4 linked regions of the Homo sapiens genome follow. The protein of the gene in region 1 interacts with the protein of each later gene in a pairwise test. Each region holds a gene or a part of one and is shown on either strand. Other genes may lie near its edges.

The links.
Region 2: the proteins of SLC25A6 (region 1) and NOTCH2NLA interact in binary tests that used the Homo sapiens proteins (3 or more experiments, as listed by UniProt).
Region 3: the proteins of SLC25A6 (region 1) and VDAC1 interact in binary tests that used the Homo sapiens proteins (3 or more experiments, as listed by UniProt).
Region 4: the proteins of SLC25A6 (region 1) and MID2 interact in binary tests that used the Homo sapiens proteins (3 or more experiments, as listed by UniProt).

Annotation. Positions count from the first base shown.
Region 1 is NC_000023.11:1,385,640-1,389,139, reverse strand, and holds the end of SLC25A6 (ADP/ATP translocase 3), read left to right. Parts: intron 1-1,720; coding exon 1,721-1,861; intron 1,862-2,380; coding exon 2,381-2,538; 3' UTR 2,539-2,988; downstream 2,989-3,500. UniProt on the Homo sapiens protein: ADP:ATP antiporter that mediates import of ADP into the mitochondrial matrix for ATP synthesis, and export of ATP out to fuel the cell.
Region 2 is NC_000001.11:146,162,991-146,170,028, reverse strand, and holds part of NOTCH2NLA (notch homolog 2 N-terminal-like protein A), read left to right. Parts: intron 1-5,018; coding exon 5,019-5,278; intron 5,279-7,038.
Region 3 is NC_000005.10:133,994,972-134,002,009, reverse strand, and holds part of VDAC1 (non-selective voltage-gated ion channel VDAC1), read left to right. Parts: intron 1-7,038. UniProt on the Homo sapiens protein: Non-selective voltage-gated ion channel that mediates the transport of anions and cations through the mitochondrion outer membrane and plasma membrane.
Region 4 is NC_000023.11:107,835,828-107,842,865, reverse strand, and holds part of MID2 (probable E3 ubiquitin-protein ligase MID2), read right to left. Parts: intron 2,197-7,038; coding exon 1,481-2,196; intron 1-1,480. UniProt on the Homo sapiens protein: E3 ubiquitin ligase that plays a role in microtubule stabilization. Mediates the 'Lys-48'-linked polyubiquitination of LRRK2 to drive its localization to microtubules and its proteasomal degradation in neurons.

The sequences.
Region 1 (3,500 bases):
GCTGGTTCCTCCTGCGGCCTCTCTCCTGGACTTGGAGACGCCGTCTTCTCCCTGTGCCCTCACAGCATCATCCCTCTGTGTGTGTCTGTGTCCTCATCCTCTCTTCTTATGGGATGTCTTAATCCATTTCAGGCTGCTATCACAGAATACCATAGACTGGGTGACTATAAACAACAGACATTGATTTTCCTACAGTCCTGGAGGCTGGAGGTCTGAGATCCAGGTGTGGGCAGGGCTGGTTCCTCCTGCGGCCTCTCTCCTAGGCTTGTAGATGCCGTCTTCTCCCTGTGCCCTCACGGGGTCGTCCCTCTGTGTGTGTCTGTGTCCTCATCTCCTCTTGTTATGAGATGTCTTAATCCATTTCAGGCTGCTATCACAGAATACCATAGACTGGGTGGATTGTAAACAGCAGACATTGATTCTCCCACAGTCCTGCAGGCTGAAGGTCTGAGACCAAGGCATGGGCAGGGCTGGTTCCTCCTGAGGCCTCTCTCCTGGGCTTGGAGATGCTGTCTTCTCAGGCTTTTTCCTGTGTGTGTGTCTGTGTCCTCATCTCTTGTTATGAGATGTCTTAGTCCATTTCAGGCTGCCATCCCAGAACACCATAGACTGGGTGACTTAGAAACAACAGACATTGATTCTCCCACAGTCCTGGAGGCTGGAAGTCTGAGATCCAGGTGTGGGCAGGGCTGGTTCCTCCTGAGGCCTCTCTCCTGGGCTTGGAGACTCCGTCTTCCCTGTGTCCTCACAGGGTCGTCCCTCTGTGTGTGTCTGTGTCCTCGTGTCCTCTTCTGATGAGATGTCTTAGTCCATTTGAGGCTGCTATCACAGAATACCATAGAGTGGGTGGACTGTAAACAACAGACATTGATTCTTCCATAATCCTGGAGTCTGGAAGTCTGAGATCAAGGTGTGGGGCAGGGCTGGTTCCTCCTGAGGCCTCTCTCCTGGGCTTGTAGACGCCGTCTTCTCCCTGTGTCCTCACAGGGTCATCCCTCTGTGTGTGTCTGTGTCCTTATCTGCTCTTCTTATGAGGTGTCTTAGTCCATTTCAGGCTCCTAAAACAATACTATAGACTGGGTGGCTTATAAACAGCAGACATTGATTCTCCCGGAGTCCTGGAGGCTGGAAGTCTGACATCAAGGAGTGGGCAGGGCTGGTTCCTTCTGAGGCCTCTCTTTTTGGCTTGTAGACACCGTCTTCTCCCTGTGTCCTCACAGGGTCATCCCTCCGTGTGTCTGTGTCCTCATCTCTTTTTAGAAGGACACTGGGGTCGTAGGATCAGGGCCCACCCTACTGGCCTCCTTTAGTCTTACCTCTTTCAAGACCTTATATCCAAGTACAGTTGCATCCTGAGGTCCTGGGGTGGGGGTGGGACTTCAGCATGTGGATTTTGAGGACAGAGTGTAACTCCCATAGTAACGGTGACCCTTCAGAAGGTCAGGGCCCTATTCCCTTCCCCAAACAGGCCTAACCCCGGCCTCTGGGACTGTCTTGCTGGGCTCCGGTAGGTGGCAGGCGGCCTTTTCCCCTCTGGCCCTGCCCCGACCTCTCGTGTTGTAAACGTCAGCTGGCACTGAGCAGCCACGTGGAGGGGGCACTGGTGGTCTCGGAAGAGCTCGGCACCACCTCAGGGGGCCGTGAGCACACCCTGGGGGCCGACCCTGGTCTCGGGTGGCCGTGCAGGCGCTGGAGACGGTGACGTGCCGTTCCCGCGCAGGCATGCTCCCCGACCCCAAGAACACGCACATCGTGGTGAGCTGGATGATCGCGCAGACCGTGACGGCCGTGGCCGGCGTGGTGTCCTACCCCTTCGACACGGTGCGGCGGCGCATGATGATGCAGTCCGGGCGCAAAGGAGGTACTCGGGGGGGCGGGGGACCCTTGCTGCCGGGAAGGGGAACCAAGCTCCTTGCCCTAGGCCCGTGGGAGGTCAGGAACCATCAAAGGAGGCACTTCCAGGGCGTGTGAGACAAGCAAGTGTGTCCGAAAGTAACCTGGCTGTGTGGAAGGATTTTCCTGAACGATGGGCTTCTGATCTTTTTGGGGTTTCATGGTCCGGGCGGCAGTTTCTAAATCCCCGCCTCCTAGAACCTCTGGTTGCACCCACACCCTCGATCCTGCCTTCTCTGCATGGACCCCGGGGTGGAGATGGGGGACACCCAGGGCGGGGCCTGAAGTCCTGTGTCCAGCCCTCCCTGAGACAGTGGCTTAGGAGGAGGGCTTGAGCTGGGGGAGCCTCAGGTATCCCTCCTGTAATCAGAACTGTGGCTCAGGCGTCTGGGGTGTTATTTCTGTGAAACGTCTTTGTGGGTGCAGGTGGCGTCCGTGTCTTGAAGAGCTTGGCGGCGAGGCCCTCACTGTCTCCCTGTCGTTGCAGCTGACATCATGTACACGGGCACCGTCGACTGTTGGAGGAAGATCTTCAGAGATGAGGGGGGCAAGGCCTTCTTCAAGGGTGCGTGGTCCAACGTCCTGCGGGGCATGGGGGGCGCCTTCGTGCTGGTCCTGTACGACGAGCTCAAGAAGGTGATCTAAGGGCCGCGGCCTCCTCCACACACACACACACACCAGGGGAACCAAGAGAACCACGTAGAATCCTCAACCGTGCGGACCATCAACCTTCGAGAAATTCCAGTTGTCTTTTTCCCAGCCGCATCCTGCCTGTAGATGGCCGGGGAAGGCTCTAGAAAAGGGGCGCATTGCGATCCAACCATCGGCAGCCGATTCCGTGTCTTGATCACGGGGTGGGAGGGAACCGTGGCGTCCCTGCGTGGGGCCCATGGGTGAGACACTCCAGTACTGAGACCTAGAGTCCAGATGCTTGTAGGAGCCAAGTCGTGTTCTAAGTATTTATTTAAAACAAAAGAATCACGTTTTCCCATTTGTACTTCAGCGCTAGCCCCTGTTTTGCACAGCCGAGTACTGGCGAGTATGTTCTATGTTGGGCCTCCTGCTGCAAAACAATAAACAGAGGACGCAGAGGTCCTCCTGCCTGGCCACGCACCTCTCCACAGGGCGGCCTGGGGTCTGGAGATGGGCGCTGGGCCCACGGGACGCAGATGGGGCCACGCTCTGCCCGTGGCTGGCCCACGTTCCTGGTCTGCAGTGCTGCCTCCTCCCCAGCACCCCTGGGGCACAGAGGGCAGGGTCACAGCTGGGAAGAGGCGGGGGGTAGAAACCAAGGCTGGCAGAAGTGTAGCCGGGCTCCCTGATAAATGCTGGAGGACCCCAGGGCACCTGCACTTACTGTACCCTCTCTGAGAGCATTTGTATGATCTCATGTCTCAGCTCTGGAGGCTGGAGGTCCCAGAAAACCAAGGTATGGTAGATTCAGTCTCTGGTGAGTACCCAGTTCCTGGCTTCTAGATGGCGCCTTCTCCCTGTGTGTCCTCAGATGATGGATGAGGCCAGGGTGCTCTCTGGAGTCCTTTCTGTAAGGGCACTGATCCCATCCATGAGGCCTCATGACTCCCAAAGACCCCCACTTCCCAACGCCA
Region 2 (7,038 bases), on another chromosome or scaffold:
ATTTAAAAATCCTATGAAGTAGGCACTGTTATTACATCTCTTTTACGACAGGGAAGTTTAGTACCTTGCCCAAGACTACACATTGAGTAAATGGTGGAGTTGGGATTGAAATCCAGGTGGTCTGGTTCCAGAGTCTGTACTCTTAAGAGCAGAACAATAATAACTCCAAGCATTTATTAAATTCTCAAGATTTATCCGGCACCATGCTACATGCTTGTATTCAAGCAGAGGCTGGTGATCATCTTTTAGAAATATTTTAGAAATGATTACTTAATTGGATAGAAATTAAATTTCTTGAATCTGAAGGTTCTGTTATTCCAAGGATGGCTGGAAATGGGGGAAAAGCCAGCAACAAGATGATGTCTGGCCTGAGGCTTTTAAGATGATCAGAATTTGTATCAAAAAGGAAACTGTGAACACGAATGATAAGTATTATAGGAATTCAGTTAACAAGTCTTGTCAGAATGTGGTAATAAATTATATACAACTTAAAGAGATGAAGTTACTTTAAATTGTGTGTGGAAGCCTTAGAAAAATTGAATAATTAAAGTTTCTTGGGAAGATGATCTCCTTTTACAAATGTTTAGTTTCAAATAGTGGCAGCACATATTAGGATAGAGAGATGACTTCTAGAAAACTGAACATATGGGACTGGAACAGTGTATTTTGGAGTCAGTTACAGGAAGGAAGTTGTTTAAAACCAAGTGAACAACAACAGTAACAAATGCATTTGAGAGAAAGAGCAGTGCAGTCCAGACTTAAACATTAGGGTGGCCATAATAGATGGGGAAGAAGGAGAAATCAGCAATCCAGACTAAGACTTCACTGGGTTTTGAGTTAGACAGAGGGAGGCATAGAAGCCAAGGTAAAATGATTAAAACGGTACATGGAGTGGTTAGCAATTCTCCCTATAGGAGAGAGAATTTCCTTATGAAGTTTCAGATGAGACCACTGAACTTGACTAGAGGAAAGTCATTGTTTTTAGAAAACAGTTTCTAAACAATAATTAGAATTAAAGTTTTGTTGCAGAGGGATAAGTAAGAAGTAGATGGAAAAGAAAGAGGAATATCTGAAATTAGGCTACAGTCATAGAAGGTTAGCTGTGAAACAATAATTTGGAAAGGGAAATGGGACCTCATGAAAGTGTGGGTTAAAAGAGACTTGTATATCTTCTAAGGTAAAAGTAAAGAACTAAGCTGATGTCCAGCCCTCTAAAACATTTTAAATAGAAATCAAACTTTATTAATACAGTAGGTCTAGTTTCACGTAAAGCAAATATATGGTTCTGTACACGGGCTTTAGGAGAGTAAGTCTGTTGTACCTCATATGTAAGTATTATCCCATTTAGAGGAAAACCCTAAGTCTTTCTTTACAGTGGCTTAAAGGCCCCAATTGATCCACATCCCAGTTACAGCTCTCATCTATTTTCTGCTGCTCCAGATATTCTTGCTGTTTCTCAAACACGCTAGGGCTGCTCTCTGTGTTATGGCCTTTGCATTTGCTGTTCCCTTTCTCATGAATGTGTTTTCCTAAGATACCTGCATGATTACTCTCACCTTATTTAGGTCTCAACTCAAGTATTGTCAGTGAAGGTCTTCTCTGATTTTCCTATTCTAAACTGAGATACTTCTCTTTGCTCACCCCACACCCTCATCCCCAGCTCCATTCCTTCCTGTTTAATTTTTTTTCACAGCACTTAACTCCATCTATTGTGCATCTTTTACTTAGTAATTTTGTTTTCGTCTTCCGCTATTAGAATGTAAACTCCAAGAGTGTAAGAATTTTTCTAGCACTGGAAAAATGCCTGGCACATAATAGGCATTTACTAATTGTTGTGTGAATGAACGATTATAAGTTTAATATTCTTTGTGGAAACTAATAAGGTTGATTTCCTATCAGAAACCGATCATTATTAATAAGCATATTGGATGGTATTTATAGAATTAGCCTTCATATGTTCTCTACTCAGAAGTTGGCAAACTTTTTCTGTAAAGTGCCAGAGAGTAATTATTTTTGCAGGCTTTGTGGTCTCATTACAGCTACTTGACTCTGTTGTTGTAGTGGAAAATCAGCCATAGACAATCTATAAATGAATGAGCATGGCTGTGTTCCAGTAAGACTATTTATGGACACTGAAATTTGAATTGTATATAATTTTGAAATGTCAGAAAATATCCTTCTTTTGTTCTTTTTTTCTAATCATTTAAAAATGTAAAAAACTATTCACAGGCCAAACAAAAACAGGCAGTGGTCCAAATTAGACTTGCAAACTGTACTTTGTCAATCTCTGGTTTTACTGATTTCTTAAATATATCTTAGGTTAAAACTTATTTTTCCATACTTGATAGGGAGCAACAATGTGAATTAAACTGTAGAAACAAATAATTCAGAAATACATCTGTTTAGCTTTAGAAACTTCCATTTTGCTTCATTTTTGTTTTCCTGGGAACCTTATATTTCCATTATATGTTTATGATGCTACCATTTAAATGACTTTGCATTCTCTTAGCATATGCCACATGATAGTGTTAGGGTGGTGTAATAGTTCAGGAGCAAAGCTGAGCAAAGCCCACCCACGTTTAAAAATTTGCCATTATTTAGAAGGTGCATAATTCCCATATGGGAGAATGAAGAGTCATCTAATAATGCCCAGAGGGCTGCACTGTGAGTGAGAATTGTGTTGCAGTTTTTAACATTCATAACACATTTCTTGAATAAGCTGCAAATGCTTTTAATAATATATCTCAGAGTTAATTTTAGCTATGCTACATTGGCACTTTTTGCTCCTCCACTTCAAAAAACCAACACAAGAAACTATTCTCAAATCAAGCTGTGATTTGGATGGGGCATTGTATTTTCCTCAATAAGCACAAAGAAGAGAGAAAAGATGTTTTCACTTGGCAAAACTTTTTTTTTTGAGATGGAATCTCACTCTGTTGCCCAGGCTGGAGTGTAGTGGCACAATCTCGTCGGCTCACTGCAACCTCCGCCTCCCGGGTTCAAGCAATTCTCATGCCTCAGCCTCCCGAGTAGCTGGGATTACAAGCGTGCACCACCACCCTGGCTAATTTTTGTATTTTTAGTAGAGCCAGGGTTTCACCTTGTTGGCCGGGCTATTCTCAAACTCCTGACCTCAGATGGTCCTCACACCTCAGCCTCCCAAAGTGCTGGAATTACAGGTGTGAGCCACTGTGCCCAGCCCACTTGCAAAACTTTTTAACATTTATAAGGTTTTTTACATACTTGATTTTGTTCAGTTCTTAGAATAATCTCATGATGTAGGTGACCTTATTAACTATTTACAATGTGAGAAAATGGATAGTCAATGAAGATAAGTAACTTGTCCAAGGTCACAGCACCAGAACTCCAAACCAGACCTTCTGACCTTCTTGATACAGACTCCTCACAGTCACCTGCATGCCATCTTTGGTTTCAGTGCTATGAACTTTCTTCACTGCCTGTTGGTCTGTAGCTACACCTACTCATGAAGATGCCCAGAGCCTTAGCCGCTCCTTGCTCTGCCATGCTTATCTTATGCAGCTCTGGGAGGGGTGAAGAGGCTGTGGCCAGTTACCTCACTACCACTATAGCTATTCACCACCCTGTTTTCTCCTTTAGCCATTTTAGCTACTACACAATTCTTCTGGGCATTTTCTGTCTTAGTTCCCTAGTATCTGGCCTTCCCTCTTTTCTCAGTAACTGTGACCCCTGCTAGCTAGCCTTGCCAACCAATGGTTAATGAAAGGTCTTGGATATGACTGTCAAAGACAAAAGCACTCATGACCCCAATGTTTCAGGTCACAATGATTAGGAAAATCAGGACAACAAGGCTTGGGCACAGAAAAGCTGGTTTTTGAGAGGGGGATTTAGAGTTTGGTTTAAATGTGTAATCTTTGAGGTAATGGTGGAACAGCCTACTAGATTCAGTTTTCTAGTCCCTGAAAACTAAAACGAGGAATAAGTTGAATCACATATTTGGGGCACCAGCCAAATATATAGCAGCATTTATAGTTAGAATCAAAGTGTTTGTGTTTCTTAATTTAAATGCTTCTCAGAGATTCCATTTAAACAACTTCATTATGAAAATGGAGACTTACCATGCCTTTTTGATATTGTTCAGAGAAAATTGTCATAAATAATACACACAGTTTGAAATGGTTGTACATCTTATGAATCAAGGGGTGGCATGTAAAAAGGTTCCTCAGTGCCTCAATGTGGAAAATATCATAGAATGTTATTCTTCAATTGATTCCTTCCTTGACTTTGGTGTTTATATGGTATCTTAGATATTTTATGTTATTTTAATTATATTTTGTGTCTTTTTATTTGGTTAAAAATGCCTACTTAAATATTAACAGATTTTTAAATATCCCTTTGAACTCTTCCCCATTCCTGTACCTCCTTTCCCTTTTTCCGTTGTAATGTCAGCCACCTGAACATAACCCAGAAAACTAGGTATCATCCAATTGATGTTTCAGTGGAAATAAGAGAAAGAAGCACTTACTATTTCTCAATGCTTAATTGAGGAAAAGCACATGATATCTTACATATTTTAAATTGGAGGGGATAATAGGGTCAAGTTCATGCATTATATTGTGGACATCTTAATCCTATCAAATGGCTTAGTCAAAATGAGAAAGTTAATGAATTTAAGCAGACAAGTACGAACAGTGCTCTAAAAAAGGTGCTGTTACACCATCCCAACCTGTACACACATGAAAAAAAGCTGGGGTGCATTTTGCGTTTGAATAAGGGTCATGTTGACTGGCCATGGCAGACCCTGCTAGACCATACACCTGATACTCTGTCACCTGCCAGGACTCAAAAGGACATGGGAGTATGTGGTTAAGTTCTCTAAGGACTCTTTCTTCTAAAGGGAAGCAGTTTTATAGGTGGTCCTTGTAGGTCTGTTGATTCACAATCTCGTGCTTTCTTGATTGGACTGTATTGTTTTACTGTAATTTTTTGGACTTACAAGAAGTCAGGTGTTTTCATGGACTCTTCTCTTTTCCATACAGATGTCCAGAAGGCTTCTTGGGGGAATATTGTCAACATCGAGACCCCTGTGAGAAGAACCGCTGCCAGAATGGTGGGACTTGTGTGGCCCAGGCCATGCTGGGGAAAGCCACGTGCCGATGTGCCTCAGGGTTTACAGGAGAGGACTGCCAGTACTCGACATCTCATCCATGCTTTGTGTCTCGACCTTGCCTGAATGGCGGCACATGCCATATGCTCAGCCGGGATACCTATGAGTGCACCTGTCAAGTCGGGTTTACAGGTAACTAATGAGACCAAAGCCAGTGCTTTCCTACCTTCAGCAGATACCTTTATTTAGCATCTTTTAGATCATGGTGTCTGGCTCTTAAATGTCCCCCAGCTCTGGTGCACATTTAACATTATGATAAGGAACTGGGATGTTCCAGACAACTATCCCTAACTTCCTTTTAAGAGTTTCAGGGGGCAGAGAAAGAGAAAGAAAAAGGACCAAATACTTTGACTGCTTAAAGTATATATGTCAGGGCCAGGTGCGGTGGCGCACGCTTGCAATCCCAGCATTTTGGCAGGCCAAGGCAGGAGGATCACTTGAGGCTAGAGGTTTGAGACCAGCCTGGGAAACATAGCAAGACCCCATCTCTACAAAAAAACAAGAATAAAAATAAAACAAAATTAGTCATGTGTGGTGGTGTGCACCTGTAGTCCTAACTACTTGGGAGGCTGAAGTGGAAGAATTGCTTGAGCCCAGGAGTTTGAGGCTGCAGTGAGCTATGATCGCACCACTGCACTCTAGCCTGGGTGACAGAGTGAGACCCTGTCTCAAAAAAAAAAATATGTACACCAGGATGGGGAATCAGAGTTTACTTCACTAAAAGAAATAAGTACACTGTCACCAGAGGAAAAGTTGCTGATGTTATTGACTATTTGCTTTTAGAAATCTCCCTCCCTAGACATTCAGGGCACTGGCTTTTCTGGTTTTCTGAACCCTGTTCCTTTTGCTTCTTCATTACCTTGTTCTTATCCATTAAATGTTTGTGCTCCCTGGAGCACTGTTTTGCGCCCTCTTTTGAGCCACATCACAGCTCTCCCTAGGGAATTTCACTGTCTGTATTCGCCTCCACTGCCACTGTCTTCATTAGCTTGCTGATGAATCTCACCATCATTCCCTTAGCTCCACCCAACCCTGACATTCAGGCTCATGTTTCTAGTTATCCTTTGTATGTTCTCCTTGGAGATATTCTACAGGTACTTTCAGCTCACCTTGTTGACAGAAATACGTAGCAACCATGTACATCCCAAATACCCACGCTAGAAACTCCCTGTCCCTTGTTCTGACCTCATTTCAACTCAGTCACCCAAGCCAACCTCTGAGTTGCCTTTCACCTGTCTATTCCTCCCATTTCCTCTGCTACCCTGTAGTTGAAGGCCATGTTATCTCTCACCTGGGCTTCTGAAGTAGTTTCTGAATACGTTTTCTTGCCTTTATTCTCTCCCCATCTCATTCACCCATGATATTACTACATCTTTGATTATAAATGCAAATATTCTAACAATCTCACCTGCTTACAATGTCTAATATTTTTTCATCATCCGCAGAATAAACTGCAAACTCTTTTACATGACTTCCATAGCTCTCTACAGCCTAGACTTTACATCTTTTTATAGCCTGGCCTCCCCACAAGCATCTAGGCCTAGTCACACCAAATTCTCCTTATTTCCTGAAAATGTTGTACTTATTATTGCTTCCATACAGTTACACACCCTTTTGCCTGGAATGCCCTTTTCTACAACTGGTGATTGTCCAATGTTATTTAAAACTGTGTCTCAGTGACCCTTTCATGATTCCTTTAGGCAAATGGTCTCTAAGTTTTATTAGTTTTATGTATCACATTTTATTGTAATTTTTTTTACACATATCTCACCTGAATAGATTGTGGGTTTTTCTAGGTGGGTCTGAGCTTTATTCAAAAGTGTTTATTAAATTAGATGAGAAAAGGAGGAACATTCTTCATTTTTTCTCCTGCTTTAAGCACTAAACCAAGA
Region 3 (7,038 bases), on another chromosome or scaffold:
TTCTGTAGTCTGCGGCTTTGGGTTTTCCATGGAGTCCTGTGGTAGCCACTGAGAAAAGTTGACCAGTGGGCTCCTCAGCTGGGTCTGGGCGCATTTCTCCATTTTACCACGTACTCAGGGGGTTTGGGATGAGTGGGACTTTAAGTTCTTTACTCAGAACTGTGCTGGAAAGAGCACTGGAGAGTAGCTTAGGCCCATAACACAGGTCTGGTGAGCCATAGGGTCGGTCTCATACAGGTCAAGTCACTGTCTTGTGCCTCAGTTTCTCTCTCTCTTTTTTTTTTTTTTTTTTTTAGATGGAGTCTCACTCTGTTGCCCAGGCTGGAGTGCAGTGGTGCAATCTCGGCTCCCTGCAATCTCTACCTCTCGGGTTCAAGCAAGTCTCTGCCTCACCCTCTCGAGTAGCCGGGATTACAGGCGCCTGCCACCATGCCTGGCTAATTTTTTTGTATTTTTTAGTAGAGATGGGGTTTCACCATCTTGGCCAGGTTGGTCTTGAACTCCTGACCTCCTGATCCACCCGCCTCGGCCTCCTAAAGTGCGGGGATTGCAGGTGTGAGCCACTGAGCCCGGCCGAGTTTGTCTGCTATAAAAGTATGATTGTCGTCATTACAGTGATTGCTGATTGAGGGCTTGCTCAGCACCTTTCTGGGGGCTCAACGAATGTTCTGTGATGTTGAGTTCACCACCCTATACCCTGGGAGAGAGATAGTGTGTTTCCATTTCACAGGTCAGCAGACTCGAGCACAGAGAGGTGAGGTAACACAGCCTGGCAGGAGTGGAGTTGGGATTCAAGGCCTGGTCTGAATGGTGGTGCTCTCACATTGCAGTTGCACTCCAAGGGACCCTTGCAAGGTGCTAACAGATGTGAATGCCTTTTGGAAAGTCAAAATTGGTGTTCAGATGGGAGACATTATTTTTCCACACCAGTCAGAGTGAACTTGTGCATGGCTGTGTGCGGGCCAACTGGCAGTGGACAATGGAGTCACCTCTATTTCTTGCAAGGACAGTGGTGCTGAGTGTCTATTATAAGGGTCCGTTTTCCCTGGGATCTGGTGGGAGGCATTCTTTCAGGACCTGTTCAGCTAAACAATGCCTCATTGTGGACATGAAGGACTCTGGACCCTGTGGTTCAGGGTGACCTTTTGAACATGCTTAGCAGCCATTATTATAATAAATATACAAAATGAAAACTTGTGATAAAATACTGTGTGTATTCCCTGCTTACCAAGCGCCAGCCACTGTACCAAGTGTTGTATATTAACGAGCTAATTCAGTCCTCACAGTGACGCCATCCAGGCTCTCTTTCTCCATATTAGAGCTGAAGAAAAAGGAGTAGAGAGGTTGCGACTTGCCCAAAGTCACATACCTAGAAAGTGGTGGGGTGGGTTAGAACTCAGGTCTATTTGATTCCCGAGGCTTCCTGCCCAAGCACTGTCTGTCTCAACCCTACCTGGTCAAGCCAAGCAGTGAGGCTCCAGGGAACTTGAGGTGCCTTAGGTCAGGTAGGAGCCCCAGGTATGCCTGGGATCCAGACCATAGTGTACTGGCTGCCAGCGCAGGCCATCTCCCCTTGATAGGTGGGTGGGCAGGCTGCCCTGAGTCAGCAACCTCTTGAGCCCAGGAGCTCAGCATGGAACTCAGCTGTGCTGGTGGTGGCCCAGCTGCCAGGGTGTTTCAAAATAGAAGCTACCCCTGGAAAGCTCTACTGCCCACTGCGAGACTGTTGTGGAAGAATGGAGGGAGAGAACAGCTGCATTGGGTACGCAGACCTGCTACCAGAACACAGGGCCATCAGCCTTTGCCAGCATCCTGGAGCTTGAACCAGGAACTGTTCCCCTGGGTTGTTTCTTCCTGGCAAGAAAGAGAAAGTGCTGGAGTGTGTGTGTGTGCATGCGTGCATGTGTGTGAGCGAGCTGCTGATTGTGTTCGCCCCCATGTTGGCTTTTAGAGCTAGGGTTGCCTTCTGCTGGGGAAGTTGCTTTTCCTGGTCCTCAGGGCTAGGAAGAGGTGCTGTTTCTGTGATCACTGGCTGGTCTGATACCCCTCCTATAGGCTGGCCTAGTTCTGCCCTGACAAACCACCTAGAATGGTGTTGGTGAAACAGCGGGGCCAGAGACTTTTCCATAGTACTCTCTTCCTTGGCAGAATCATAAGATGATGGCAATGATGATGATGATGGTTGTGATTGCTCTGTTGGTTAGCGTCTTTGCAGGGATCTGGTGCACACTTACACTTGGTAATCCAGGAGAGTTTAATGAAGACATCATTTGCAAAGCTGTGGATGGGGTGTCAGGTCTGGTCTGTTAACACCCTGAGGCCTACAAGAGAGGGAGCTTCTTGGCAGGAGCTGTGGCCTTGGGTAGAGGAAGGTAGTCATTGCCCATCTGAAGCCTAGCAGGGAGGGAGACTCGGGGTGAGTACCCCGACTTCATTCTTCCCTAAACTCCCGTCTTCTGCAAGTACCTCACGTTGAAAGGCTAAGCCCAATCATAAGCCCATGGACAGCAGTCCATAATGATCAGTTCTGGGGGCACAGAGCAGGGTGGAAGGGAGGAGAATGGATCTGGAGGGGCAGACAGAGTATCCAGTGTAGTGGATTATGGTTATTACTGCCATTTGTTGAACACTTACTCCATGCCAGATACTTCTGCTGTTCTGCCTGTTTCACTCATTCCTTGTAACAACTTCCTTAGGCCTAAGGCCTTTCCTCCCAGCTGTTTTTAGCTGAGTCTTGGAGACCCATGGCCACCCTGCTCCCTGTATCAACCATTGCAGTAGTTGTTGGCTCTCTAGGGGTGCAAAGCTCATCTGCCTGAATCCTTCTATTATTACTATTTATTTCTTTTTATTTTTTATTTAAAAGAGACAGGGTCTCACTGTATTGCCCAGGCTGGTCTCGAACTCCTGCATTCAGGCGATCCTCCTGCCTCAGCCTCCCAAAGTGCTGGGATTAGAGGCGTGAGCCACCATGCCTGGCACATGCCTGAATCCTTTTGAGGGAGCCTCTGCAGAGAAGAGAGCATATTTCTACCAGGCGGGGGCCTGGTAGGTGCTTAGTGCAGGAACCGCCCTGAGCTGCTGCTTCTCAGTGGCACCTGGGGGCAGCCCTGCCTGTTAGGCACAGGCTGAGAGGTAGGGCAGGAGGAGTTCCATCTCTTCTGGCAGGCTCTTCTTGAACAAGCGCCTCCGGTGATTCTTGTGCACCCTGAAGTTAGGGAGCTCTTTCCTGCTCATGATTTCTGGCAGGGTGGCCAAGCCACTAGTGGTCACCTGGGAGTGAAATGTGCCCCGACGGACCTTGCCTGATAACTCTTCCATCTCAGTGTAGTTTAAATCTGTTCTTGCAATCTGTATGGACACTCTAGGTAGCCTTCTGGCATTGCTACTGCAGCAGCCTTGGAACGTGATTTGGGACACAACACAGCTCAATTTCAGGCACAGTGGTTGGCTTTTAAAGTGCTGTTTTTTTGGAGAGGGAGTCTCTCGCTCTGTCACCCAGGCTGGAGTGCAGTGGCACGATCTTGGCTCACTGCAGCCTTTGCCTTTGGGTTCAAGTGATTCTCATGCCTCAGCCTCCCAAGTAGCTGGGATTACAGGCACTTACCACCACGCCCGGCTAATTTTTGTATTGAAATTCTTTATCCTTAAACAAATTATTAGTATACACAAACAGCTTAAATAATGAAGCAGAACAAAAAATGAAAATTCGATTTGAAGTGCATTCCTTCCCTAAACCTCCTTCTCCAGAAGCGTATCTAAGCCAGCCCCAATTTGCAGATTGGCTTGTATCCTTCCACATGCTTTCCCATCCATTCATGAACATAGAAAGATGTGTAAAAAGGTTTTCCTCCAATTACATGGAATTACAAATTTTCTGACTTTTTTCATTTAACTGTATCATAGCTAGCTAGCTTTCTTTCTTTTTTTTTTTTTTGTTTCGAGACGGAGTTTTACTCTTGTTGCCCAGGCTGGATTACAATGGCGCGATCTCAGCTCACCACAACCTCCACCTCCCAGGTTGAGGCAATTCTTCTGCCCCAGCCTCCCGAGTAGCTGGGATTACAGGCATGCGCCACCACGCCTGGCTAATTTATTTTGTATTTTTAATAGAGACAGGGTTTCTCCATGTTGGTCAGGGTGGTCTCGAACTCCTGACCTCAGGTGACCCGCCCACCTCGGCCTCCCAAAGTGCTGGGATTACAGGCATGAGCCACTGCGCACGGCTATCGTAGCTTCATAGCTAGCTTTCTATGCCACCACATACATCCACCTTATTCTTTTTTTTTTTTTTTTTTTTTTGTGAGACAGTCTCGCTCTGTCATCCAGGCTGGAGTGCAGTGGCATGATCTTGGCTCACTGCAACCTCTGCCTCCTGGTTTAAGCTTGTGCCTCAGCCTCTCAAGTAGCTGGCATTACAGGCGTGCACCATCACACCTGGGTGATTTTTTTTTTTTATTTTTTTTTTATTTTTAGTAGAGACGGGGTTTTGCCATGTTGGCCAGGTTGATCTGGAAGTCCTGGCCTGAAGTGATCCGCCCACCTCAGCCTCCCAAAGTGCTGGGATTACAGGCATGAGCCACCCACCTTATTCTTTTTGATTACCATATGGTACTCCTTAGTTTGCAAGTATAGTACCTTAATTTTTATTCATTCATTTTCCTTTTGATGGACTTTTAGGTTGCTTCTGGGTTTTGTGTTACAAATACTGCTGCAGTGAGCATCCTCATATACACATCTTTGAGTAGTGCCTTGGTTGCTACAGTGGGGCAGGTTCCTAGAAGTGGAATTGCCACTAGGGTTAATGCTGGGTTAATTGCTCTCCAAAAAGAGTGTACCTGTAGTACTCCCCCTTGGCGTGAACAAGAGTGACTGTTTTCCACACCCTCACTGACACTGGATATTATTTACGTTTTTGCCAGACTGCTGGTTAAGTGAGCTTCTGAAACACAGATGTGGTAGTCACTCAACAGTGGCTCTTGGTGGCCCTTAGAATAAAATCCATGCATGGTATTGAGGTCAGAAGCAACCAGTGCTTCTGATGGCACTTGGTCTCCTCAGCCTGAGATCAGCTCTCCTTAGGCCGAGGTGGGAGCAGGCAGGGAGTGGAGGTCATTGCTAGTTGAGGGTCTCCCCAACTCCCCCACTCTTGGTGATGCTGCAACAGTGAGCCTGCAGAGGGAGCTCTTACTTCCTGGTTGCATTGTAATGAGTTCCTATTGTCAGATTCCAAGTTTCTACTTTTTTCCCCATTGCTAAATAATACTTTGATGCTCATTGCTCATTCACTCATCAAACACATTTATATTGAATGCCTATTATGTGCCAGGGCTTAGCATCTTTATATACGTAACTTTTTCCATATTTTGGATAAATTTATGCATGACAGGCTCTGGGGTGCTTTGAATTCAAAGAGGTGATTTTGGGGGTAGGTGTATGGGGTAGGGTGGGGTGGGGGCACGGTGAGCACAGCAGCTGTCATTGCCATTCAGCTGATGAGCCAAGAAGGATGTGTACCCCCAAGACAGAGGTTACGTAAGTATTATGCAGACTGTGCTGGGTGATAGATACACTATCCTTCCCCTCTGTGCTTCCAGTATGGGCCGGATTTTCATTCCTCAGCTGGAATGGGGCTTGCATAATTTGTTCAAGGTCAGCCAAGGAAAGGTTGGGTAGGTAGACTGGCAGGCTGTGGAGGGGAACCAGGGACTCCTGTATCCTGGTGTGACTTGCTGGTCCTTCTCAAAGTCTTCAGTGACTGCAGGCAGGTCTGCTCAGCCTGGCCCTGCCCATCCCTCTGTTTCCTACCAACCAGTGGGAACAAAGCCCCCAGGCTCTGCCCTGAAGCCATCACTCAGGCAGAGAGGCCTGTGGTTCTGACTCCCCCAGGACGCCCTCTGACTTCTGTCTGTCCAGGGCTAGCTGCTTTGCCGATGCCAGACTGCCCTGCTTCATGCGCAGCCTCTAGAGGCTCAGCTTGTGAAGGCCCCTGGGGGGTGGATGCTGCAGAGACAGCTGTGTATCAGTAGCTAACTGTACAGGCTCCGATTTGGAGCAGATCTGGGTGGAAGGAGTGACTGGGAGGGGTGGGGGCCAGGGTTCAGCCTTCAAGTCAGCACCCTGGCAGGGTGTTAAGTGAAAGCAGGCTTTGTTGCCGACTTTTCTTTCCTCCAGTCCTCGCCTTAGAAAATTAATGCAGATTATTATTTCTATCATAAAATTGTCTCTGAAATGGGTTCGAGAGCTGTGTAAAAATGGGCATTTTGGGGGTGCTGTCTGTAGCTGTAAGAAAGCTGAACTTCTCGGAGCGGCAGAGCTGTCTCGGGCCTTCCTTAGTTCCGTCAGATCAGTGCAGCAGGGGATGGGCCGAAGTGCACAAAAAGGAGGGGAAGCTACCACTACCTGGCAGTTGGGGGCCTTTAGTGAAAGGGTGAGTCATCCTTTTGCTGTCCTCGGTGGTGTCACTTCAGGCCCAGGAGTGGACTTGACTCCATTCAGCCAGTGGTTTCTGTGAGTCTTCCTTGCCAGGTGCTATGCTGGGGAGAATGCTTACTTGGGGGCCCAGAACGGGGGAGATTATGCTTCATTGTCGGTGTTCAAGGAGATGGGGAAGAGAGCAAGACACAGATGAGAAAGCCAGCATCCAGTATGTTTACAGTGAGGCATTGGATAGGGATATGTTTTAGTGAACCAGCAAGTTCACTTGCGTGCTGCTGGTACCAACTACATGGTTGTGTTGTGGAACCCCACAGCCCCAAAAGAGCTTGGCCGTGTCGGAGCTCCTAGAGGCCCCAGGAGGGGTCCGGTCTGCTCTTCTGAGCTCTGCTCTCTGAGTGCCTTGTCCTTGGGTGGTAATCTCTTTAGTGGCCTTGTACTTCAGGCTGATGTTTGCTGTGGGTGGGGTGTTTTTTGACAGGTGGCTGTGCTTGTTGGATTTTGGGGATTAGCGATGAGAGAGGGCATTTGGGGAACATTTAATGGATGAGTGCTCTGCCTTTATCCTGAGCGGGGACCAGTCCAGATGTGAAGGCTGCTGTG
Region 4 (7,038 bases), about 110 Mb from region 1:
CAAGGTCTGTTTATACAACTTTAAAGTAGAGCGCTTCGACTAGACCAAGTCAAAGGCCTAATATCTTATGAGTCTAAGAACTGAAGTTAACAAGATTATTTCCCTCTGCAGCCTTGATATGAATGAGAGTATCAACTTGAGTGAAATAAAAAAATTGAATTTGCTACACATTTATACATATCAGGTATAAATAATAACCAAAAGAGGCACAAACCATAGTCATTGTGACTACTCTCAATATTATTTGCAACAAATTACAGGACAAATATATCCTATTCTGAGTACTGCTACTCTCACCAACATTATACTTTTTACAGAAGTTACAATGAATCATCCACTGCATGGCAGGAGGAAAATCTCCATTCCCTTCTTGCCCTCCTTTTATCCTATCTGGGTCTTTCTTCTAGCTTGGCTTATGTACTCAGGTTCTATTTGGAGTGGTAATTTTACTATCCGTTTAAACATTTTATTTTTCTAGAATATCTGCTAAGTAGCTCCCTTCTTAAGAGAAATTATACAACATAGCAGACAAGCAATGGGAATAAAACAATTCGCTGGATCATCAGTGTAAGGTAGGAGGACTTTTTATGGGCACTTAGACTTGTACATACATATTATATGACACAACAACTTTAGAAAACTCTGTCCATTGAATACACATAAATGACTAGGAACTTGTAAGGCAGGAACTATAAACAAATGCTTCAGTTTGTAGCCCATAATAGTGAGCACTGTCACAAAATTTGATACTGGATAAAATATTTATTGCCTTCAGTTTAAATTGTTCATTCAGATATTTAATTATCCCTCCCAATTTCGTGGTATACTGAAGTTTCTTCAGTTCTTTGTTTTGTTTTGTTTTGTTTTGTTTTTAAAGGCAGGCTTAGAATTAGCCCTATGTTAAAGGCTTAATGGCAATTTGTAATGGCCAATGCCAAACTTTTGTTTCTTTAGTGTATTGAGTACACAAACACAAACATACAATAATGTCCTCCACAAAAATCTCTCACCTACCTAGATACACTCAGCCACCTCCACCCACACCTACACAGAGACACACCCTGCCTTCCCATTGCCATATACCTACATATGCAAATCGACACATATGCTAATTGTAGTACACGTACACAAGTACTCACATACTTAAAAGAAGAGGTGGAAAGATCATAGCAAAGATATATAATAAGCAATATGTCACTGACAGAAGATAGAGGGTGTGTTTCCCTGGATGAACTACTGGTGTTGCAGGCCATGAGCTGACTCCCCAAAAGTTAGCCAGAAGTGTGTGACTGCAAGAATGTTTATGCAACAGATGAGATAGGCTCCAGGAAGAGCTTGCAGGAGAGCAGGTTATTCCTCATGAGAACAACTTAAAGTTAACTCACTTGTCATATAGGAAAAGTCACCTATTTTATTAGAGAACTTGCTAACTGCATTTATGCGACAAAGTTGTATAGGGGATGCTCCCCAGATCCCTTACCTTGAGTTTCTCAAATCGATCATTCAGGGATGCGACCTGATGGTCTCGGTGACGACCCACCAGTTTGCATAAGGCACAGATCAATTGGTCATCAGATACACAGTACATGTTCACTTTCTCATTCTCATGGTCCAGGCAGGTGATCCCTCGAAGATGTGTGTCTGGCACTGGTTCCACCAGGCGGTGGCTGGTGAAAGGTTTCTTGTTGGGGTGCGTGGCCCGCAGGCAACGGTCACAGTAGGAGACCTCACAGGTGATGCATGTTTTTACTGCATCCCTTGGCGGGTCCTGCTCACAGAATTGGCAAGCAATTCGCTCGCTAGACATGGCAGTGGTGGGCCTGTAAGTCCTTTCCCGGCGGCTCTCACTAGGGGAATTGGGCCCACTGACTGAAGCCTTCTGGAAGCGATCAATAATGTTCTGCAGAGTCACATTCCTCTTGAGGCCATCCAGGCCCCGGTGGTTCAGCGAGATAACATACCTGCAGGTAGGACACTGGAAAGCAGTAATGGGTTCAATGGATTCACCAGAGCTGCAGCTTGATACCAAAATGCGATGGGCACAGCTGAAGCAGAGGCTGTGAGCACAAGGGAGCAGAAGGGGGTCTTCAAACAACTCTAGGCAGATTGGACAGGTCAATTCAGACTCCAGTGTTTCCATCTTTAGTGAAAATAGTCCTCCTGAGGCATTAAGAACCACGGAGGCTGGGCTTTCACCTGCAAGGAATACAAAGCAAGAGTCATTAGGCATTTCCAAAGGAAAATGGATATAACACAATTATACACTAACCAATGGGCGCGTTTACGTGCTGGATTCCCCAGAGATGCTTAAGCAATAGAAAAGCAATTTGGGAACTAATCAGGAAGACTTTCTTCCCCTTCAAACCTTGTTTTAGACAAATGCCTATGTTTATTTTCATGCACAAATAGATAAAACCAAATGGCCACCTCTGAATCCTGATAGACTGATTAACATTACCATTCCAGCTCACAATATTTGCATGGATCATTCTCTCACATATTCTCCACTGACATCTCTTTTCCTAGACTAAGATAAGGCTGAGACCCTGCAAAATTCCCAATCTCTATTCTCCAATATTGTTCTCTATTTCACTTCAAGGTAAACTGTAGGGCTGCTTCTATGTGACATCCAGTGTAAGGAAAACAATGCCATATTTTAAAGTAACTCTCTACTTCCTGAAATGATTCCATTCTGAAAGCCTGCATAAAAAAGAGAGAGCTTTAGAAAAATGTAGCCCTTGGTGCAGGATAATAAGTTTTTCCTCAGAGTGTGAACTTGAATTACTTCTTATTATCACACATGGAAATTTCCGTTCCATTCTATTCCTAGTAAACTGAGTTACTTGAGATAAAAGATGATAGTTTTCACTTTCATCTTCTTCCCTCACCTTCAGAAACCCCTTCAGTTCATCAAGCTGAATGGGGAATGATTTCAAACTTTTCAACCTACTCAGCAATAGTTGCTGATCAATAATAAAGTCATATTGCCTTGTGGCTTCAGTTTGGTTTCATTACTAAACACCTGCTGAACTAGCACAAGCCAGCTATGAAGCTCACCTCCCATGTGTCTTTTCATACTTTCTAAAACATAACAGGATGCAAATCAATATCTAGATAGAAATTAGCAAAGTTCCAGAAATTTTAAGATCTGGTAACCTTCAATTTAGTGAGCATCAGTGAGTAAAAGAGGTCACCCGGCCGGGCACAGTGGCTCACGCCTGTAATCCCAGCACTTTGGGAGGCCAAGGTGGGTGGATCACGAGGTTAGGAGGTCCAGACCTTCCTGGCCAATATGGTGAAACCCTGTCTCTACTAAAAATGCAAAAATTAGCTGGGCGTGGTGGCGCTTGCCTGTGGTCCCAGCTACTCGGGAGGCTGAACCAGAAGTATCGCTTGAACCTGGGAGGTGGAGGTTGCAGTAAGCCGAGATCATGCCACTGCACTCTTGCCTGGGTGACAGAGTGAGACTGCCAAAAAAAAAAAAAACAAACAAAACAAACAAAAAAAGCCACCCAACTGACAAGAAACCAACCTCTTGGTAACTCTATCTATTTTTCCACAGGCATTTCTGTGCTGAACACACAGGTACCTAATTCTTAATTGCCTAGAGTCTTCCATTAATTAAAATACACACACATAAATATTCTAAGTTGTCTTTAACTAAGGAAAAATATAAAACATATCTTACTGACTGAAAATGTTAATCCTATGTATAGGAAAGAAAAAGGGCATCTTTCTTGCTTTTTTTTTTAACAAGGTGTCCCTCTGTCATTCAGGGTGGAGTGCAGTGGTACAATCTTGGCTAACTGCAACGTCCACCTCCTGGGCTCAAGCGATCCTCCTGCTTCAGCCTCCTGGGCTCCGCCTCCTGGAACTCCAGGGGTATGCCACCAAGCCCAGCTAATTTTTGTTTATATTTTTTGTAGAGACGTGGTTTTGCCATGTTGCCCAGGCTGATCTTGAACTCCTGGGCTCAAGCAATCTGCCCACCACAGCCTCCCAAAGTGCTGGGATTACAGGAGTGAGCCACAGAGCCAAGCCCAAGAAAAGCATTGTTTGCTTTTGAGTAGCTTTTGTTTATTATCTTGTCATCATTGGAGACTCTCATCAGAGCTTGAAAATTTTGCTCTGCCATTGGTATTTGTTCAGATATTGTCACAGGATACATAAGTACTGAGTACAATTATACTTTATGCCTAAGTACAATAGATGTACACCTAAAAGCTGTTTCTAAATCAAACCTTTTAAATGCACTGAACTAACTACCTATTTAATGAAAATCTATATGAAATGAGGTTATAAAAGTGAAGAATCTTTTTGTAAATCAGTCACTCAGTTGGTTTAGTAGATTCAGATGTTTGTACAGCCAGTTTTTTTAAGTGAGACAAGGTATTTTTCTTTTAGAATTTACAGGTGCTTGAAAGTTGTTGGCCAGTATTTTGTAGCTTATAACATCTATCAACGTTCACCCATACAGATGAAAAAGTAAACAATTAAAATGTACATACATCATTGAATCTTAGAATTGGAAGAGACTTTTGAGAGATGAAGATTCCAACTTCCACTGACAGCAGGAATATTGCCTTAGAGAGCTCCATTTGATATATTACTCAGATTCTCAAACTCAACATGTCTATAAATGAACTTGTTGTGCTCCTCCTCACCTCCACAAAACAAAACAAACAAAAAACACCTGCTCCTCTTCTGATTTTCCCTGTCTGGTGAATATCACCATCCAAGCCTAGAAATCTAAGAGATCTCTCATCTACATGTTTTTATCACCTCAACCACTGGTGGCTTCCAGAACATTCTGTTTTATTTCACTTACATAGCTGTATTTCCAGCTAACTCTTCCTTCTCCTTGAGAGTATCAACTATTTTATATTTTCATTCACAGCACAAGTTTGTGCTTCACACAAACTGTATTCAATAATTGTTAATGAAGTATCACTTAAACTAGGAGTAAGAAGGGGTCTAGCATTCATTGAGCATCTCCTGTATTCTGAGTACTATGTTAAGCACTTTACACATTATTTCACTAATTCTTTCAGGAAACTTGTGAGGAAGTTACTATTACTGTATCCACCTTACAGTTAGGAAACTAGGGCTTAGAATCATTAAATAAATCAACCAAAAACATACATACCCAGAGCACAGGTCAGTATAATTCCAATGCCTGTGCTCTTTTCCCTTACCTTTATTTCAATCATCTCACCTCCTTCACTGAGGTTTATCTGGACCATTTACAAGACAGTTTTTTTTTTTTTTGAATTCTGGAAATCTTTACTTTGGTATATTTAACATAGTTTATAGAGTTTTTTTTTTTTAAACAGCATGTTTCTACGTCTATTTTTATCTCTCTCTGTCTCTCTTACTTTCTCTGAATCTGCCTATTTCATTCTGAGTTCCTTCCAGAATCATATCTCTGTCTTCTAGGCCCATCTCCACCTCACACTGCACTTCTATTACTATCTCTTCTAGAACTGTATGCCTGCATTCCTCAATGTCTGTGTTGGAAGCTACCTGGGTTGGTCACATGTATTGCTGAAAGCCATGTCTATGTATGCTGAAAACTATATAACAACAATTAGAGTACCACAGCTTTCCTAAGGCTTAAGAGGGTGCCATATAAATTGTCCTGTACAGAGGAAAAGCTCTTAAATTTTGTTTGGAAATCTAAAATTTATTTCCAAGTCAGTGTGACACTTGAACCTCATTATGAAATTAAGCTTGGGAAAGCACGCTATGGGTCAGGATTGCTTTGGGTAAGGTCAAAATAGGATTTATTAACCGGGGACTTCTGAACTTCCTAGAACTGTTTGCAGAATGTGTTTGTATGTCATATATGCATTTTTCCTGGGGAAAGGGTTGCCCATAGCTTTCAAAAGATTCTCAAGAGTCTTTGAAAGAAAAAAACCCAATCATTAGTACTCTAAAATAACCTACCTTAACTTATTTCAGCTCTGTAAAGAATATTTTAAGATAGTTACTGCCTCTTGCTTATTTTAGCTTTTCTAGACTGTTTCGAATCTGTTTGATTTTTAATTATCATATATTAACTGTTTTAGCCAATTTTCGGGTACTGAATACTTTTATCAACTTCTTCAGACGTGTTCAATCATCTCTAATTTATGAGGCTTTCTTGTTCTGGGTACTCCTAATATTTTAGAATCCTTTCAATTATCCCCCATTTCCCCTACCTTTCTGGTTATCTAAGCACCTGAACAATACCCTTTATGCGCATTGCCTCATTTACTTTTCACAACAACTCTCTAAAAGGTAGGTATTATCATTATTTAAAAAAAAAAAAAAGTAGGCTGGGCGTGGTGGCTCACGCCTATAATCCCAACACTTTGAGAGGTTGAGGCAGGCGGATCACAAGGTCAGGAGATCGAGACCATCCTGGCCAACATGGTGAAACCCCGTCTCTACTAAAATACAAAAAATTAGCAGGCGTAGTGGCGCATGCCTGTAGTCCCAGCTACTCGGGAGGCTAAGGCAGGGGAATTGCTTGAACCCGGGAGGCGGAGGTTGCTTGAGCCGAGATCGTGTCATTGCACTCCAGCCTGGCAACAGAGCGAGGCTCCGTCTCAAAAAAAAAAAAAGTAACTTGTTCAAGGTCACACTTGTTTCTAAGTGGCAAAACTAAGAATCAAACTTAGGATAAAACTTTAGAAATAAACCTATATATATCTATGGTCAACTGATTTTCAACAAGGGTTCCAAGACCATTCGATGGAGAAAGAATACTCTTTTCAACAAATGGTGCTTGGACAACTGGATATCCACATGCAAGAGGATGAAGTTGGAGTTCTACTTCATATCATTTATAAAAATTAACTCACAACAGATCAATGATCTAAATGTAAGAGCTGAAACTATAAAACTCTTGGAAGGAAAGATAGGCATAAATCTTTGTGAACTTAGGTTAGGCAGGCAACAGTTTCTCAGATGACACCAAAAGCATAAGCAACCAAAGAAAATATACATAAATGGTACTTTATCAAAATTTAAAATTTGAGTGCTGCAAAAAGCACC